4 separate regions of the Homo sapiens genome follow, and all the other regions are reported to be linked to region 4. Evidence: microRNA targets listed by miRTarBase, many of them from high-throughput screens and not tested one by one. Region 4 holds a microRNA gene; each other region holds the end of a gene's coding sequence.
The links. Region 4 holds the annotated microRNA hsa-miR-4711-3p (CGUGUCUUCUGGCUUGAU, at 1,033-1,050, shown strand). A microRNA usually pairs through its seed, bases 2 to 8, with sites in the 3' UTR of a target mRNA and lowers its output. Matches are read on the target gene's strand: a 7mer-m8 pairs with bases 2 to 8, a 7mer-A1 pairs with bases 2 to 7 and ends in A, and an 8mer does both.

Region 1 (4,079 bases), not on the chromosome of region 4:
ATCCGAGCACTTTGGGAGGCTGAGGAGGGACAATTGCTTGAGCCCAGAAGTTCGAGACCAGCCTGGGCAACATGGTAAGACCCTTGTCTCTACAAAAATATTTAAAAATTAGCTGGTCATGGTAGCATACACCTGTAGTCCCAGCTACTTGGGAGGCTGAGGTGGGAGAATCACTTGAGCCCAGGTGTTAGTGAGCTATGATCGTGCCACTCCACTCCAGCTTGAGCAACAGAGTAAGACCTTGTCTCAGAAAAACAAAACAAAACAAAACACTAGCAGGGTATTTTTAAAGGGGATCCTATTGACGTTGAAAGCCATAAGATCAAAATTATTATAAAACATAAACTGGATCTTTAAAAAAGAATTCGACTGAAGCAGTTGCAGGCATGAATCCCCAAATGGCCACGGAGAACTGATGACTAATTCAGGGAATGAAGAGAAAACAAACTATCATCAGCAGGGCCAAACTCCCAAACCCAGATGCATGAGGCTCCCAGGTGTAAAAGGCTGGGTGGGTGACATGATCTGGCAATTGCTCATCAGTAACCAAAGCTCATCGAACAGGACACAAGGTGGGCTCCGGCCTCACAGCCCTGCAGTTGCTGTCCCTGGTGCTGAACAGCAACTGCCTCACCAGGGCCCAGGTGTTTATCCTAACCTAAAGAAACAGAGGATTTCTATCCATGCCCATCCACCCACTAAGACAGAGAAGAGGGGTAAAGGAAGATGAGGGAGGAAGCTGAGACAGAGAGACAAATGAACTCCTGAGAGGTAGCCAGGGAGAAGGAAAGCATGTTTTGACAGCATTTGCAAATAATGGATTCATCAAGAAAGATGAAGGAAAATGAGGTGAGCAAAAGCAAAAAGTACCCTTCATTCATGCATCTGTTCTGAGGCCAGTTTGGAACAACTCCTCCATGCCAGCAGCCCACGTCATGTTCAAAGAAGACTCTGGAGAAAAAGATTACTAGGGCAGGTCTGATGATTCATAAGCAAAGGCACCACCACTTGGGCTGCAGTTTATGAACCCTTAAGGCCAAGGGGCAAAGGTCACCCTACCGAAACCAGAGCTCAAATGAAAAGAAGCCATGGAAATAAATACAAGAGTGACAATTATAACTTCTAAACAGCTTGGATAGGGATAAGATAACCTGAGGTGACTGGATACTTCAGAACAAATTATTCGCACATCTTTCCTCCTGTCCTTTAACGTAAACACATATATACCTATCAAGTTTCAAAGAAAATTAGCTGAATTATTGCTTTATCGCCTTCTAAAGCAAACAAAAATGACATACAATAACATAGGCCAACGATGCACACAGCCCCACTAGAAAGAGAAATACACATAATCAGGGAGAGTATGTTTAAAAATTGGAACTGCTGATTCCTCAAGGGGAAGAAGGAACTCACCAAAAAAAAAGAATAGAAAACCTCAACCCAGCGGTAATACCCTGCACCGAGACTACAGCAGAAAATGAACAGTTTGATCTTCCTTGGAAATGTCCTTCCAAAAAAAGACCTGCCCCGGGGTCGGGTGAGGAGGTGCTTTCACAAATGCAGGTGTTTTTCAGAACCTGGGGAGACAATTCCAGCCTCACACTGATGTTCTTGGAGCTGATGAAGGTGTCTAAAATAGGTAGAAATGCAAATTTTTACATAAAAAGCAAAACCACCCACATGGACGTTTCTGGGCAGCCTGGCTCCTTTCCCAGCCTGAAGTGCTGTCTGGGGAGATGAGCGAGTGCTCCTGGAGGTTGGGTCTTCCCGTCTGGATCCAGGGAGAGCCTGGCGAGGACAGGGGCACTGGATAGCGTTCTCAATCCAATGGGAAGGGCCCAGGCACGTAAGCGTTGTGCAGGAAGAAACGGCAGCAGCTCGGCCTCGTCTGCGGGTTCTGATGGTTAAGGCTTCTGTTACGTAGATGTGGCAGTGTTCCCTGCCTGGAGAGGAAGGGACAGTACTGGTGTCAGCAGTGGGAACATTTGGCTCCATTGCTCTCTACCCTCAGTCCTTAAAATCTCACCTGATATTCTCCAATGAAGTCACCCCTAGAAGCCTAAGGTCACAAAAGAGATTTTTTGTGTTGGGTGGAAAGGGGAGGTGAGGAGGGTGGCAGGCATGGAATACAGTGAAACCAACATGAAATTTAGGGTCAGGTCAGGGTTCCAGTCTCAATTCTGAGCCTCAGTTTCCTCAAAGGGGTTGCTGGAGGCTTAAATGAGATATTACATGTACTGCACCAAACACAAAATAAACACAGGTCCCGATCCCTTATCCAAATCCCTTGAGCATAGTTTTATTTGGGAATTTATAATTTTTAGTATTTATTATACATACACACATGCATCATACATAATCATGTAATATATACACATATGTATATATATACATATGTAACACCACCATAATCAAGCAGATAATATTCCTGCAGTGTATTATGAACATTCATATAAAGTGGGGAAAATAGAGTCAAAGTAGAATTATATTCACTCAGGTCAGGTTTTACCACTGACTTAGGAAAAAGCTTTGTTTTGCAGGGCTTTCTGGAATTTGGCTTTGTGGATAAGGGATGGTGAGTCTCTTGTGCTCATCACATCAACGCTGACTTTGATGGTGCACGTACCATGAGCTCCTATACTGAGGAGAAACAGGCAGCACTCAGTCAAGCACCACAGGTGCATTCTCAGTGAGCCCTGAGGACAACTCGGTGGTGTGGACACTGCTAACCCATTTTACAGATGAGGAAACTTAAGTTCATGATGTTCAGTCATTTGCAACTTACACCAGGGCCTATCTAATCGTAATTTTTAATGTATATTTTTTCAAATTCATTTTTAACTACATAGGTTGTATATGAAACACTCCCCCTATAAAAACTGTAACCATTTCTGGCCGGGCACAGTGGCTCACGCCTATAATCCCAGCACTTTGGGAGCCAGAGGTGAATGGATCACCTGAGGTCAGGAGTTCGAGACCAGCCTGTCCAACATGGTGAAACTCCATCTCTACAAAAAATATAAAAATCAGCTGGGCATGGTGGCAGGCACCTGTAATTCCAGCTACTTAGGAGGCTGAGGCAGGAGAATCGTTTGAACCCGGGAGGCAGAGGCCGCAATGAGCCAAGATCCGAGATTGCATCATTGCACTCCAGCCTTGGTGACAAGGGCGAAACTCTGTCTCAAAAAAAAAAAAAAAAAAAAGTAACCATTTCTAATTAAGCTAACCTCTGATGTCCCCGCCCTTTTGTTTTATCAGAGGGGACTGTGATGCAGCTAGAAGGGTCAGCCAAGTGCATGAGACCAGAGCCCCAGTCACCTGCCTCCTGGCCTGGTACCTTTCACCCACTCCAGGCAGCCCAGCTTTGTTTTCTCCCTAAATGGAAACAGACATAACCATCCTCTTTACAGGAACTCAGAACACCCCCCACCCCTCATTCTTCCCCTTACACAGCCTCTTTCCTTGGGTACAACAGCCCCAGTCTCTGAAGCGTGGCCCCCCTGAGTTCCCCATTCCTGTGACTGCAGGGCTCTTCCCAGGTTCCCCAACAGAGCCCCTTCATACCTGGTCAAACTTGGTTCTCATAAAGACTTTGCCTCTTCTTGGATTTCAATTCCTTTAGCCACTGGGGAGAGGGTTCATCCGACCTGAAACCACAAAGCCAGTAAGAGACTAGTTGAAACCAGACTGTGGGCTCCTTGCGGGCAGGACTGAGTGGTATCCGACTGTCTATCCCTGGGCCCAGGCGGGGTTGGGGCAAGCACTCAGAGGTGGTAAAGATGCCCATATTAACGGGACTGATAAGCAAGAAGTAGAAATTAACCACAGTGTCCAACAATGGGGAATATTAAATAAATCAGGGGTCCCCAACCCCCTGGGCCACAGACCGATACTGGTCCATGGCCTGTTAGGAACAAGGCCACACAGCAGGTGGTGAGTGGTGGGCGAGTGAGCGAAGCTTCATCTGTATTCACAGCTGCTCCATCACTCACATTCCACCTGATCTCTGCGTCCTGTCAGAGCAGCGGCAGCATTAGATTCTCATAGGAGTGTGAACCCTATTGTGAACTGTGCATGCA
Region 2 (4,079 bases), not on the chromosome of region 4:
TGTTCTGCAGCTGACCAAAATGCTAACTGTTCTCTGGGAGAGAACAGGAGAGTTGTCACTCTCCTCTCCTATTCAACCTAAACTATTTCTTTCATCTTTCAGGCTTTTGAACACTTGCAGCAATTAGAATTAATAAAGCCCATGGAAAGAACTTCAGGAAATTCACAGAGAGAGTACCAGCTGATGAAACTGCTTTTGGATAATACTCAAATTATGAATGCTCTGCAGAAATATCCCAACTGTCCTACAGATGTGAGGCAGTGGGCAACATCCTCACTAAGCTGGTTATGAATATAACCAGTGACTTCAACTTTGGCATTTCATTCATACTTCTGTAGAGAACGGAAAACTATTGTCCATTAACATGATATGCTAAACATTCTATAAACATTCTTGTATTTATGTGAGACTTGCCCATCTACTGTCTTGGCTGTGTCTTGCCTTTTAATCATGAACAGTTACATGATTTATAATTTCACTGATTGAGATTACTTTGTAAGTAGCTGTTCAGAAGAATAAAATATGACTGTTTTAGGGACTAGACCATGTGCTTTTTTAACACTTATATATATAATGGTCTATTTGAAGAGCTCACTTCAACCTAACAGCTAGATGTCTTTACAAACCTTAAACCAAAGGAGTAAAAAAAACAATGGTAAGCACTGAAGTATAATAAGTAACCTTTGGTACAGCAGGTTTGCTGCAGTGTTTTTTTCTGTCCACATGCAAATTTTGGATTCTATCCCAGACCCAGGTTTTCTAGTTCAGAAGACTAACCAGCTTAGTCAGAAGATGGTTCCATGGAAGAAAAAGGCCAAGGAGTTTGAAGATTTTTCTTCTAGACATCTCAAAATGTGGTACTCATACCATCCACATCAGAATCCCTTGTAGGATTTTCTAAAATTACAGATTGTTGAGCCTACCATAGGTCAAAAGGACTGGAATTTTCCTTCTTAACAAGTATAGTCATGGCACCACGTAACATTTTGGTCAATGACATTGTATAAAGGGTGGTCTCATAAGATTATACCATATTTTTACTGTACCTTTTCTATGTCTAAATATACAAATGTTTTACCATTGTGTTACAGTTGCCTACAGTATGATTACAGTAACATTCTGTACAGTGCTATAGCTGAAGAGTAATAGGCTAGGCTATCTGTATAGCCTAAGTGTGTAACAGGCTATATACATATCATCAGGGTCTGTGTAAGTATACTCTGTGATGTTCATACAGTGATGAAATCACCCAAAGACACATTTCTCAGAACGTAGCCCCATCATGAAGTGACGTGACTACCAGAGATTTCTGGAAAAGCACTCCCAAAAGTAATGAGATGTGTATGGCAATGTTAACTGAACCTGTTTGTATTAAAAAGTAAATCCCTATGAGGAATGTGGAAATGTCCGTCAAAGCATTGTCTTTTAAGTAAGTTCCAAGATCCATGAATTAACAGAGGCATATATTTAAAATGAAATTTAATGAGCACTTAGTGACTTCATTTGTTCAAGAATATTTGATTTCCTATTGTGTGCATGGGAGGTTTACAAAAGACAGACTGTCCCTATGCTTGTGCAGCTTACAATCTATTTAACTATTAGAGGCCCTGTGAGATGTAGGCAGTTATTTACAGATGAGAAAACTAACACAGCAGTGGCAATGCTGGGAATGGCCAACAGGCTTGGAATTCAACTCAGTTTAGCACCAAAGCCAGTGCTATTAAGACCTGAAGTTCAACAGTGGATTCCTTACCAAATAGTTTTTAAAGTATGCTCTAAGGAACAATGTTTTAATGAAATCTTGGATACAAAGTGGAATAAAAGGTTTCTGAGCATAAAGTAGCTCTTCAGTAGTTACAACCTATTCTTTTGCATACATAGCCTTTCCTTCCCTGCAAAAAGTTAAGCCTGCTAAGTATTCAGATCCCTGTCATTTACTTCTCAGCAGTCTCATTCAAGCTAAGGCTTGCATACTCAATCTGTGCCGTAGTCTACACATTTTTAGGGGATATTTCACCAAAATACTTGACATGGTAACATCACTATTATATACTAGAAGCAAGAATTTTACACTTATGCTCTAAGTGATCCTTTTAAAAATTTTCTGAACTATTTGAGGAAAGTATTATTTGTCTTAAAGGGTAACAGCCTCATGAAATGACTTGAGGATTCCAATTTCTTATTAGCTTAAGATGTCACTTAAAAGCTGACAGCCCTCATCTGTCTCATTGGCTACATAAGAGCTGCAGAAGATCCATCAATAACCAAGTATAAAGAAAGATTTTAAGACTAAGTACCAATTGAGGTAAACATGAAACCGTTATAAAGCAAATTAAAAAAAAATACATTAGGAAAAGTTACACAAATGAAGTGTACGCCTATTATATTCCCAAGGCATTTTTGTGGGGAGGAACAGTGCTGCTTGTTGGCCTTTCCATATTCCCTCATACAAAAATGCTAAAATCTATTCGCAAGAGTTTTGAGCTAACTTCGTCTCTTAAATTGCTTTAATTGTCATCAATAAAAACAAATATGAAAAACCCTAGTTTAAAAAGCGGTTCAAGAATAATGTAAACTTATACATATAGCTTATTTTCTTCATTTACTAGAGGAGGAAAAATAGAACCAAAAAATGCATGAACTCCTGCTTTTCAATCTGATTACCTCAAACTGAAAAGCAGGTGAAAGGAGGAATATTTCAGTGTGTTTTTACATCTGAATCCAAGGGATCCAAGTGGCCCAGCAGAAACGGAATTCTTGTTAAAATGACTGATTCTCGTGCATGTGAAAGGCTCTGGGGAATGAATACCTGTTTGGTCCAAACTTACTGTATCATAATGCTGTATATGTTGAAAACGTAATACCTGTTAATGTCCTAATGAATCACGTTTTGCAGAAAACACCGTAAGAAACACTTCAGTCTTTCTGTAGTTTCCATGCATATTTCACCATGGTTCGCACTCTGATCCTCATCTGGTTTAGAAAGCAATTCAGTTTCTTTCAAACCACCATAACCTAAGTGCTGCCCCATCCTTCACCTTTACCCTAGAAAATCTGAGAATCCATTGGTGTGTACTGTGTGACACAATGCCAACAAGCCTCTGGTTTCTAATACTGGCAGGACCAACACACATACTTTAGTGGGAATATAATCTGTTTAGACGATAATAGAGGGAAATGCCATAATTAACAAATCTCCCTTCACTCACCACTATCCTCATTCTTGCAGTTGTCAAGGTGTAAGCCTCACTGTAAGTTACAAAGCTACCACTCCCCTCTTTAAGAACACATAGCTTAGGATTGCCTTGGCGATGTGGGCTCTTTTTTGGTTCCATATGAACTTAAGTAGTTTTTTCCAATTCTGTGAAGAAAGTCATTGGTAGCTTGATGGGGATGGCATTGAATCTGTAAATTACCTTGGGCAGTATGGCCATTTTCACAATATTGATTCTTCCTACCCAAGAGCATGGAATGTTCTTCCATTTGTTTGTATCCTCTTTTATTTCCTTGAGCAGTAGCTTGTAGTTCTCCTTGAAGAGGTCCTTCACATCCCTTGTAAGTTGGATTCCTAGGTATTTTATTCTCTTTGAAGCAATTGTGAATGGGAGTTCACTCATGATTTGGCTCTCTGTTTGTCTGTTGTTGGTGTATAAGAATGCTTGTGATTTTTGTACATTGATTTTGTATCCTGAGACTTTGCTGAAGTTGCTTATCAGCTTAAGGAGATTTTGGGCTGAGACGATGGGGTTTTCTAGATATACAATCATGTCGTCTGCAAACGGACAATTTGACTTCCTCTTTTCCTAATTGAATACCCTTTATTTCCTTCTCCTGCCTAATTGCCCTGGCCAGAACTTCCAACACTATGTTGAATACGAGTGGTGAGAGAGGGCATCCCTGTCTTGTGCCAGTTTTCAAAGGGAATGCTTCCAGTTTTTGCCCATTCAGTATGATATTGGCTGTGGGTTTGTCATAGATAGCTCTTATTATTTTGAAATACACCCCATCAATCCCTAATTTATTGAGAGTTTTTAGCATGAAGGGTTGTTGAATTTTGTCAAAGGCTTTTTCTGCATCTA
Region 3 (4,079 bases), not on the chromosome of region 4:
AGCCTATAAGCAGAGCAGTCAAGCCCAAGCTTTGGGTTTAAATTCAAACCTGGCATTTACTAGCCATGTGACCTTGGACTATGCTTTGAACCTGTTTGATCCTGGGTAAACTGAGGATAATATGTAACAACATACATCAGAGATTTGTAGAGGGCTGAAACTCAACACACTGTCTGGAACGGGAGTATTCAACAAATCGTTGCTACTGTTACTATTATTGTCTGGGAAGACAACACTATTTTTGAGTTAAGGTCATTCTCTTGCCACATGACACTGCTGTGTTCTCTAGCACTTAGTAGACCCCCTATCCCTTTGGTTAAAAAATGTAGCTGTTTCATTTTTATCCCTACTTATCCTGTTAGCTTAACCAAGGTGAAACTAGGTATGTATATATGAAGGTAACAATTTCTAATATGGATGCCAGTTTTAAATTTAATTTCAGAAATTTTGTACAAAAAACCTCATGCTTAGGCTAATTTACACTGGGAACACTCTAGGTTAAGCCATAAATTTTTACTGAATGTTAATAATTTTTAACTTTAAACTAATTTCCTTAATATAACCGTAGATAATGTTTAATTTGGATAAAGTACACATCATTTTGGATGAGATGGTGTTAAATGGCTGCATTGTGGAAACTAACAGGGCAAGAATTCTTGCCCCTCTACTAATTCTTGATAAGATGTCAGAAAGCTGAAAGGAAGTCTCTTCGAGACAATATGGATTTATCAGAAATGCGAGTACCGTGGAATACATCTCAACATGTTAACCCAGAAGAATCTGGAAGACCACAATTACAAAATGGGGTATCCTTCCAAAGACATTATAAATAGGCATTTTCCACAGTTCCTAAAAAGAAAACACAACTGTACTTTAAAATATGTACAAAGAAAAAAATTTCTTTAAACTGAGAGAGAAGTTTTATTTTCTAATTGTAAACATATCTGTCGCACTTTAAATTCTGTTGAGCACCTAAGGAACCCTTCTTGGTCTATGCTTCTTTTGCAAATTGAATTCAGGAATAGCAGGATGGTAGTGGGAAGAAAGTATGGCAGTTTTCCGTCAGCCAATAAAGTTTTAAAATTTAAACACAAGGCATTTTGAGTAACGCTGTTTTCTGAAAGCTATTTTTTTTTTTTTGAGACGGAGTCTAGTCTAGCTGTGTCACCTGGCACATTCTCGGCTCACTGCAACCTCCACTTCCGGGGTTCAAGCGATTCTCCTGCCTCAGCCTCCGAGCTGGGACTACAGGCATGCACCACCACACCTGGCTAATTTTTGTATTTTTAGTAGAGACAGGGTTTCACCATGTTGGCCAGGCTGTCTCAAACTCCTGACCTCAGGTGATCTGCCTGCCTCAGCCTCCCAGAACGCTGGGATTACAGATGAGCCACAGTGCCTGACTTCTGAAGGCTGTCTTATTCCTTTAAAAGGCTTAGTAAAATTAACTTTTTAAGAGGTGTTTTTTTGTTTGTTTTTTTGTTTTGTTTTTTAAGACGGAGTCTTGCTCTGTCACCCAAGCTGGAGTGCAGTGGTGTGATCTCAGCTCACTGCAACCTCCACCTCTGGGTTTAAGCAATTCTCCTGCCTCAGCCTCCTGAGTAGCTGCGACTACAGGCATGTAGTCCCCAGGAGACTGAGCTGTGATTACAGATGTGAGCCACCATGCCCTGCCCGGTTTTATGTAAAGCCCAGCTAATTTTTGTATTTTTAGTAGAGATAGGGTTTCACCATGTTGGCCAGGCTGTTCTTGAACTCCTGACCTCAAGTGATCCACCTGCTTCAGCCTCCCAAAGTGCTGGGATTACAAGCATGAGCCACCATGCCCAGCCAAGAGGTGTTTTTTGTTTGTTTGTTTTTAAGAGAAGCAGGTCTTGCTGTGTTGTCCAGGCTGGACTGCAGTGGCTTTTCACAAGCATGATCATGTTGTACTACAACCTTGAACCTTCCTGGCCTGGCTCTAAAAGCTTTGTAATGTGGGGCTGGTGCAGTGCCTCACACCTGTAACCCCTGCACTTTGGGAGGCTGAGGAAGGAGGATCGCTTGAGGCCAGAAATTCAAGACCAGCCTGGGCAACATAGACCTCATCTCTACAAAAAATGCAAAAATCAGCCGGGTGTGGTGGCACATACCTGTAGTCTCAACTACTCGGGAGTCTGAGGCAGAAGATTTCTTGAGCCCAGGAGTTCGAGTCTGCAGTGAGCTATGATCGTGTCACTGCACTCCAGCCTGGGTGACAGAGTGAAACCCTGTCTCAAAAATAAAAAAGTCCGAGTGCGGTGGCTCAGGCCTGTAATCCCAACATTTTGGGGGGCCAAGCCAGGAGGATTGGTTGAGCCCATTAGTTCAAGACCAGCCTGGGCAACACAGCAAGACCATATCTCTACAAAAAATAAATAGGTGTGATGGCTCATGCCTGTAATCCTAGTACTTTGGGAGGCCGAGGCAGGCAGATCACTTGAGGTCAGGAGTTTGAAACCAGCCTGGCCAACATGGCAAAACCTTGTCTCTACTAAAAATACAAAAAGTTAGCCAGGCATGGTGGCAAGCACCTCTAATCTCAGCTACTCAGGAGGCTGAGGCAGTAGAATTGCTTGAACCCGGGAGGCAGAGGTTGCAGTGAGCCGAGATCATGCCACTGCACTCCAGCCTGGGCGACAGAGTGAGACCCTGTCTCTAAAAATAAGTAAATAACTAATTAAAAAGTTAGCCAGCTGTGGTGGTGAGCACCTGTACTCCTAACTACTCAAGAGGCTGAGATGGGAGAATTGATCAAGCCTAGGAGTTTGAGGCTGCAGTGAACTATGATCACAACACTGTACTCCAACCTGGGTAATGGAGTGAGGCCCTGCCTCAAAAACACAAAAACAAAACAAAAAAACTTTTATAACATGTACCTAACAAAGATGCAGAGTTAAATTTTATTTGCCAGTTTGTAAAAGCCTTTGATACTCATTTTAAGGGCACTTAGTAATTACAATGCCATTATGTAATTAACTCTATAGAGAACATTACTTTCAAATAATGGATGGTCAGACATTAAGACAGCCCCAGAGAGCCCCTACAGCTATCCTTTATCCCGTTTTTTGTTTGTTTTTTGGAGACAGCATCTCCGTCTCCTAGGCTGGAGTGCAGTGGTGTGATCATGCCTCACTACAGCCTGTACCTCCTGGGCTCAGGTGCTCCTCCCACCTCAGCCTCCTGAGTAACTGGGACCACAGGTGCGCACCCCCTCCACCCAGCTAATTTTTGTATTTTGTTGTAGAGATAGGGTTTCACTATGTTGCCCAGACTGGTCTCGAATTCCTGCAGTCACATGATCCATCTGCCTTCGCCTTCCAAAGTGTTGGGATTACAGGCCTGAGCCACTGTGCCCAGTCTTTTTATGCCACATTTTAAAAGGTTTGCTTATTAATAAGCTTACTGTTAATGAAATTTAGTTCAAAGTTTAAAAGTAGAATGCAGCCAGGCATGGTGGCTTACGCCTATAATCCCAGCACTTTGGGACGCCAAGGTGGGTAGATCATTTGAGGTCAGGAGTTCAAGACCAGCTTGGCCAACATGGTGAGACCCTGTCTCTACTAAAACTACGAAAAATTAGCCGGGCATGGTGGCACGCGCCTATAATCCCAACTACTTGGGAGGCTGTGGTAGGAGGATCACTTGAACCCAGGAGACAGAGGTTGCAGTGAGTTGAGATCGAGATTGTGCCACTGCACTCCAGCCTGGGCACAGAGTGAGATTCCGTCTCAAAAAAAAAAAAAAAAAAAAAAGTAGAAAGCAAGAAAGTGTCTCTGTACAGGTAGGCATGAAATGAATCCTTCTCTTCCTCCCCTTTACTCCTTTAACCCCTTCTCCTGCAATGTCTTGAAGTAAATTACTGTCATTACAGAAGAGCAATGCACTGCATCCCCCCAAAACCTTTCTATATGCTTTTGCTACCCCGTTAACAGAAGAATATACAGAACTGTCTTAGGCGAAAGTATGTACAGTAGTCCCTCTCTTATCCACTGTTTCGCATTCTGTGGTTTGTGTTACTCATGGTCAACTGAGGTCCCAAAATATTAAACAGAAAATTC
Region 4 (4,000 bases):
CTGCAGTGAGCTGTTATGGTACCACTGCACTCCAGTCTGGTCACCAGAGCAAGACCCTGTCTCAGAAAAGAACTTATTCATGTAACCATACAACACCTGTTCCCCAAAACCCTACTGAAATAAATAAAAAGAAAAAGAAAAGAAAACTGATACTTGAGGAATGAGAAAGGCTGTGTTGTTGGAGCAGATAAGAGTGAAGGGAAGTGTGGGTGAAACAGAACCAAGAGGCAGGCAGGGCCATACCACGCGGACCCCACAGTCTCCTTTCCAAGGGCCCTGGGAAGCCAGAGCTACTGTCACCCAAAGGCTCTGCTGAGGTCAGCAAGGGCCAGGGGACATCAAGGTGGCTCTCTTATCACCCAGATATGAGAGATGCTCAGGAGGCAGAAAACATGCTTCAGTGACAGACCAGATGAGGGTGTTAGGGAGAGAAAGTTGTTAGAAGTAACTCTTAGATTTCTGGGCTTAGGCATGTGGCCCACTTAGGGGGATGCAGAGTGAGGGTTTGTCCTTACGGCTGTGTGCACAGAGCTCCTGTTTTTAGATCTCACAGGGCTTAATTCAGGGACATGGAGTAACTGAGAAGGAGAACCTCAGCCTTGCCTTGTTCTGAGAACAGCAGCAACAAAGAAAGAAATCAAGAGAAATAATGTTGCAAAAATTCCTCACAGACAAGGCCAAAGCTTACATCAGCCAGTCATGTGGGTTTTAAGCTTGACTATTTAGTAAGAAATGAATTTGTCCTTGTAAGTGTTAGAAGATCTGGCATTTACACCTGAGATGTGAAGGTGCTTGCTTTAAAAAACAAAACAAAACAAAAAAACAAAACAAAACAAAACAAAACAACAGCATAAGTTCTGAATATCCAGTCAGGAAGTTTAAATGCAGCACTGGACAATCAATACAGAGCCTGAGGCTCAGCCCTTCCCACAGAGACATCACCCAGTTTCCCGAGGGTAGTGAGGAGGAGATGGGGCAGGGGACACAAAAATGTGCATCAGGCCAGAAGACATGAGCCCTTTGGAAAGGTCTCGTGTCTTCTGGCTTGATGCACATTTGCTAGGCTTTATGCACAGTCACCATGGCCATCTGGAAACACAGAAACTTTTATTTGGGGGTGCACAGGCCCGGGGACTCCATGAGGAGAGTGTGTAGGACGTGGACAGGGAATTCCAGGGGAGCTCAGTAGGTGTTTAAGGCTGGAAGGGAGATGGAGAGGCCTGTAAGTAGTAGTAGCGAGTAGGGAAACCTGGATTAAACTCAGGCAATCTGGCTCCAGGAGAGAAAGTCCTTTGAAGCAGAGCGAATGAACAGAAGCCAGCAGGACTGAGCAGTAACAATTACGGGGAACAGGGGGAAGGTGCATCCAGGTACTCGGGGGCCATGTGATGGGTTTTGGAATTCTGTCTAAATTCCATGGTGGAAGCTCGTCGCGGGGATTTCAGGGTGCAAGAATTGCATGTTCCTGTGACGTCTCTGGTTCCAGCAGGAAAGCAGCCGGCAGCATGAGACCAGTTAGGAGATACCGCAGTGGTCTAGGTGGGGGCGACAGTGGTCTGCATAAAGTAATCAACTAACCAACTAGCTAAGCTCCTGAATACCTTCCTTCCCTTCCCCTTTCTTGCCCCCCTTTCCTCTATCTGCTTTGGTATCTCTGACCCCCCTTTTCTCTCAGCAGAAGGTAGAGGACAGAGTGATAAGAACTCCACCCTGCTCAGTTTGCCACAACATAGACAGACTTTGCCATTCCTCATCTTCATCTCTGAGGTGCCCTCCCTGCACTTCCCCATTCAGGATCATCCTTTTCTGTGCCTGCATGCTGACAGGGAGCAGCTGCTTGTATCTAGAACAACTCCCAGCTGTTCTTCCAACTTTTCTTAAGTGTTTCTTAGTGTCAATGCCTCTAATTAGTTAAAATAGGAAGGGGGGTGGTAAACAGAGGAGCACAAGAGAGGCCTAATTTTAGCTGTAGCCAAAAGGACTTTCCCCTAAATACACTGTGATCTCAAAATACTTAGCTAAGCCCATATGTACATGGCGGGGAGAGAATTTAAAGAGCTACAGAAGTAAAATTCTCTGGTCAAATGGGACAGCTCTGCCTCTTTGTACAACTGGATTAAAGAGAAAAGGAATGAAAATAAACTGAACCCTCACTCTGTGCCAGGAACTGGACCAGATGCTTTGTGTGCGGCAACTCAGCAATTCATTTAATCCTCACAGCAACTGGATGATGACGGGACTGGTATTACCTCCATTTTACAGATGAGGAAACTGAGGCTCGGTGAGGCTGATGCTACTCTGTGCAAGATGACACAGCTAATGAGAGAGCAGGATTTAAATCTGGGTCTCTCTGGCTTAACTGTATCTAGCAAGAGGAAGATGGGGCCTCAAACCTAGGATAAACAGGGCATTGGGAAGAGAGCTTAAACAGGGATTCGGAGCAGGGGATCAGAGCCAGATTCCAGGGGATTCTGACTCTTAGAACACTCAGAGGCATCATCATAGAAACTAGCAGGACTTACTCAGTGCCTCAACTTTATCCAATCCAGAAATCCCTCCTGGCCCTCACAAGGTATGCTGGAGGAATGACCAGACTGTCACTAACAACTTACAGGTAGATAAATCATATGGAGAATGCCCCCCACCCCCATCTCCTCTTCTCACTTCAGCAAAAAAAGGAAAGACAACAACAAAAAACAACTAACCCCACTGCTTCCTGTAATCAAAGGAATACGAACTGGCTAATCACCCAACCCCCTACAACCTTCTTAAGGTTAGGGGAAAATCTGGGCTCCTTCAGAAAAAAGGCCACCTGATAGGACTCATGGCGTCAGCTTCCTTCATCTCGGTTCATGCTTAAAAGGCCTCTTCACCGGGAAGCTTCCCAGTGAGGTTTTCCACGCACATCTGGACACTTTCCACAATAGGCCTTTGAAGAGGCCTGAAGTATTCCGGGAAAGTCTGCCTCACTGGGCTGAGGTTTAAAGAGCAGAAGCCCACATTTATTTTTCTTTCCCGCCTTCTTTGACAAAACTCCCCTCAGTGGTTTGTGGGCATTTGCAAAGCAGCCCTGATTTTCAGCTTGCTACTTCTAGGGCTGAAATCTTAAAGAAAATGAACAACAATAGAGCAAATTCAAAAGAGCATGGGTATCATCAAAGACTGTTTATGTGTTCTGCTCCTCCACCAGACTCTGAGTCGTGCTTAGTCATCTTTGTAGCAGGGAGAAAATGGACCTTGGCCTCAAGCCGACTTGCTCCATCACTCAGCATTGGTGACATTTTGTCGAGTCACTTAAACTGTCTGAGGCTCAGTTTCCTGACCTGTGAGTTAACAGGGGCCTGCCTTGCGTGGGCTACTAAACGTTCATGAGGTGGGTTAAGTAAATCACTTTGCATGTTGTCCGACATGGACTTTGACAGGTCTGTGCTGTCTCCTTGGCTGGGTCCCTCTCCACTATACAGGCTAACAGCTACTCATTGTTTACAACTCAACTCAGGTGATGGTTTTCTTCTCTGGCAATGCTTTACCTCTACCTCCCTCTTGCTTGGGCTAGATGAGGTATGTGTCCTCAGTGCTTTAAAACTTCCCTATTCTCTGATCTGTGGTTTATTGTTATTTTAGTTGTATGTCCACCATGCCCTGCCCCCACACCACTGTAATAATGTAGGCACCTGATGTCTTTCCACACTAAGCACAGTGCCTGGTATAACAATATGCTCAATGACTGCCAAGAGATTAATTAGTCTATTAGCAACTATTTATTGGCCCGCTTACTTTGAGTCAGGTGCTATTCTGGCTACTGAAGCTGTAGCTATGAATAAAACAGACATGGCCCCTGCTTTCATAAGCTTACATTCCAGTAGGGAAAGTCAGCAAGTACATTAAAGACATGTAGAGACTTGTGGTTATAGCTCCAACATGTAAAAACTGTCTAAGTCATTTATCCCATCCTTACTCCAAAAAAAAAAAAAAAAGCTAAGAAACTGCAAATCAGTGA

Region 1: the mRNA of KIAA1671 is a reported target of hsa-miR-4711-3p. The part of its 3' UTR that is shown has no 7-base or 8-base seed match.
Region 2: the mRNA of ORC4 is a reported target of hsa-miR-4711-3p. Seed matches in the 3' UTR shown: 8mer at 1,253-1,260.
Region 3: miRTarBase lists AP4S1 as a target of hsa-miR-4711-3p. The part of its 3' UTR that is shown has no 7-base or 8-base seed match.

Annotation. Positions count from the first base shown.
Region 1 is chr22:25,190,270-25,194,348 of GRCh38, reverse strand. It overlaps KIAA1671, which reads right to left. Exons shown (of 13, transcript NM_001145206.2): 12 at 3,565-3,647; 13 at 1-1,943. The coding sequence ends at 3,569. Among named protein-coding and RNA genes, the nearest start is that of CRYBB3, 7.5 kb to the left of the region's middle.
Region 2 is chr2:147,931,722-147,935,800 of GRCh38, reverse strand. It overlaps ORC4 (origin recognition complex subunit 4), which reads left to right. Exons shown (of 14, transcript NM_181741.4): 14 at 103-4,079. The coding sequence ends at 291. Among named protein-coding and RNA genes, the nearest start is that of ORC4, 87 kb to the left of the region's middle.
Region 3 is chr14:31,092,339-31,096,417 of GRCh38, forward strand. AP4S1 (adaptor related protein complex 4 subunit sigma 1) reads left to right here. Exons shown (of 6, transcript NM_001128126.3): 6 at 569-4,079. The coding sequence ends at 697. Among named protein-coding and RNA genes, the nearest start is that of STRN3, 68 kb to the left of the region's middle.
Region 4 is chr1:59,730,285-59,734,284 of GRCh38, reverse strand. It overlaps MIR4711 (microRNA 4711), which reads left to right and starts at 989; the gene lies at 989-1,058. The region is part of intron 14 of FGGY (FGGY carbohydrate kinase domain containing); the gene reads right to left. RefSeq lists an enhancer at 3,074-3,368.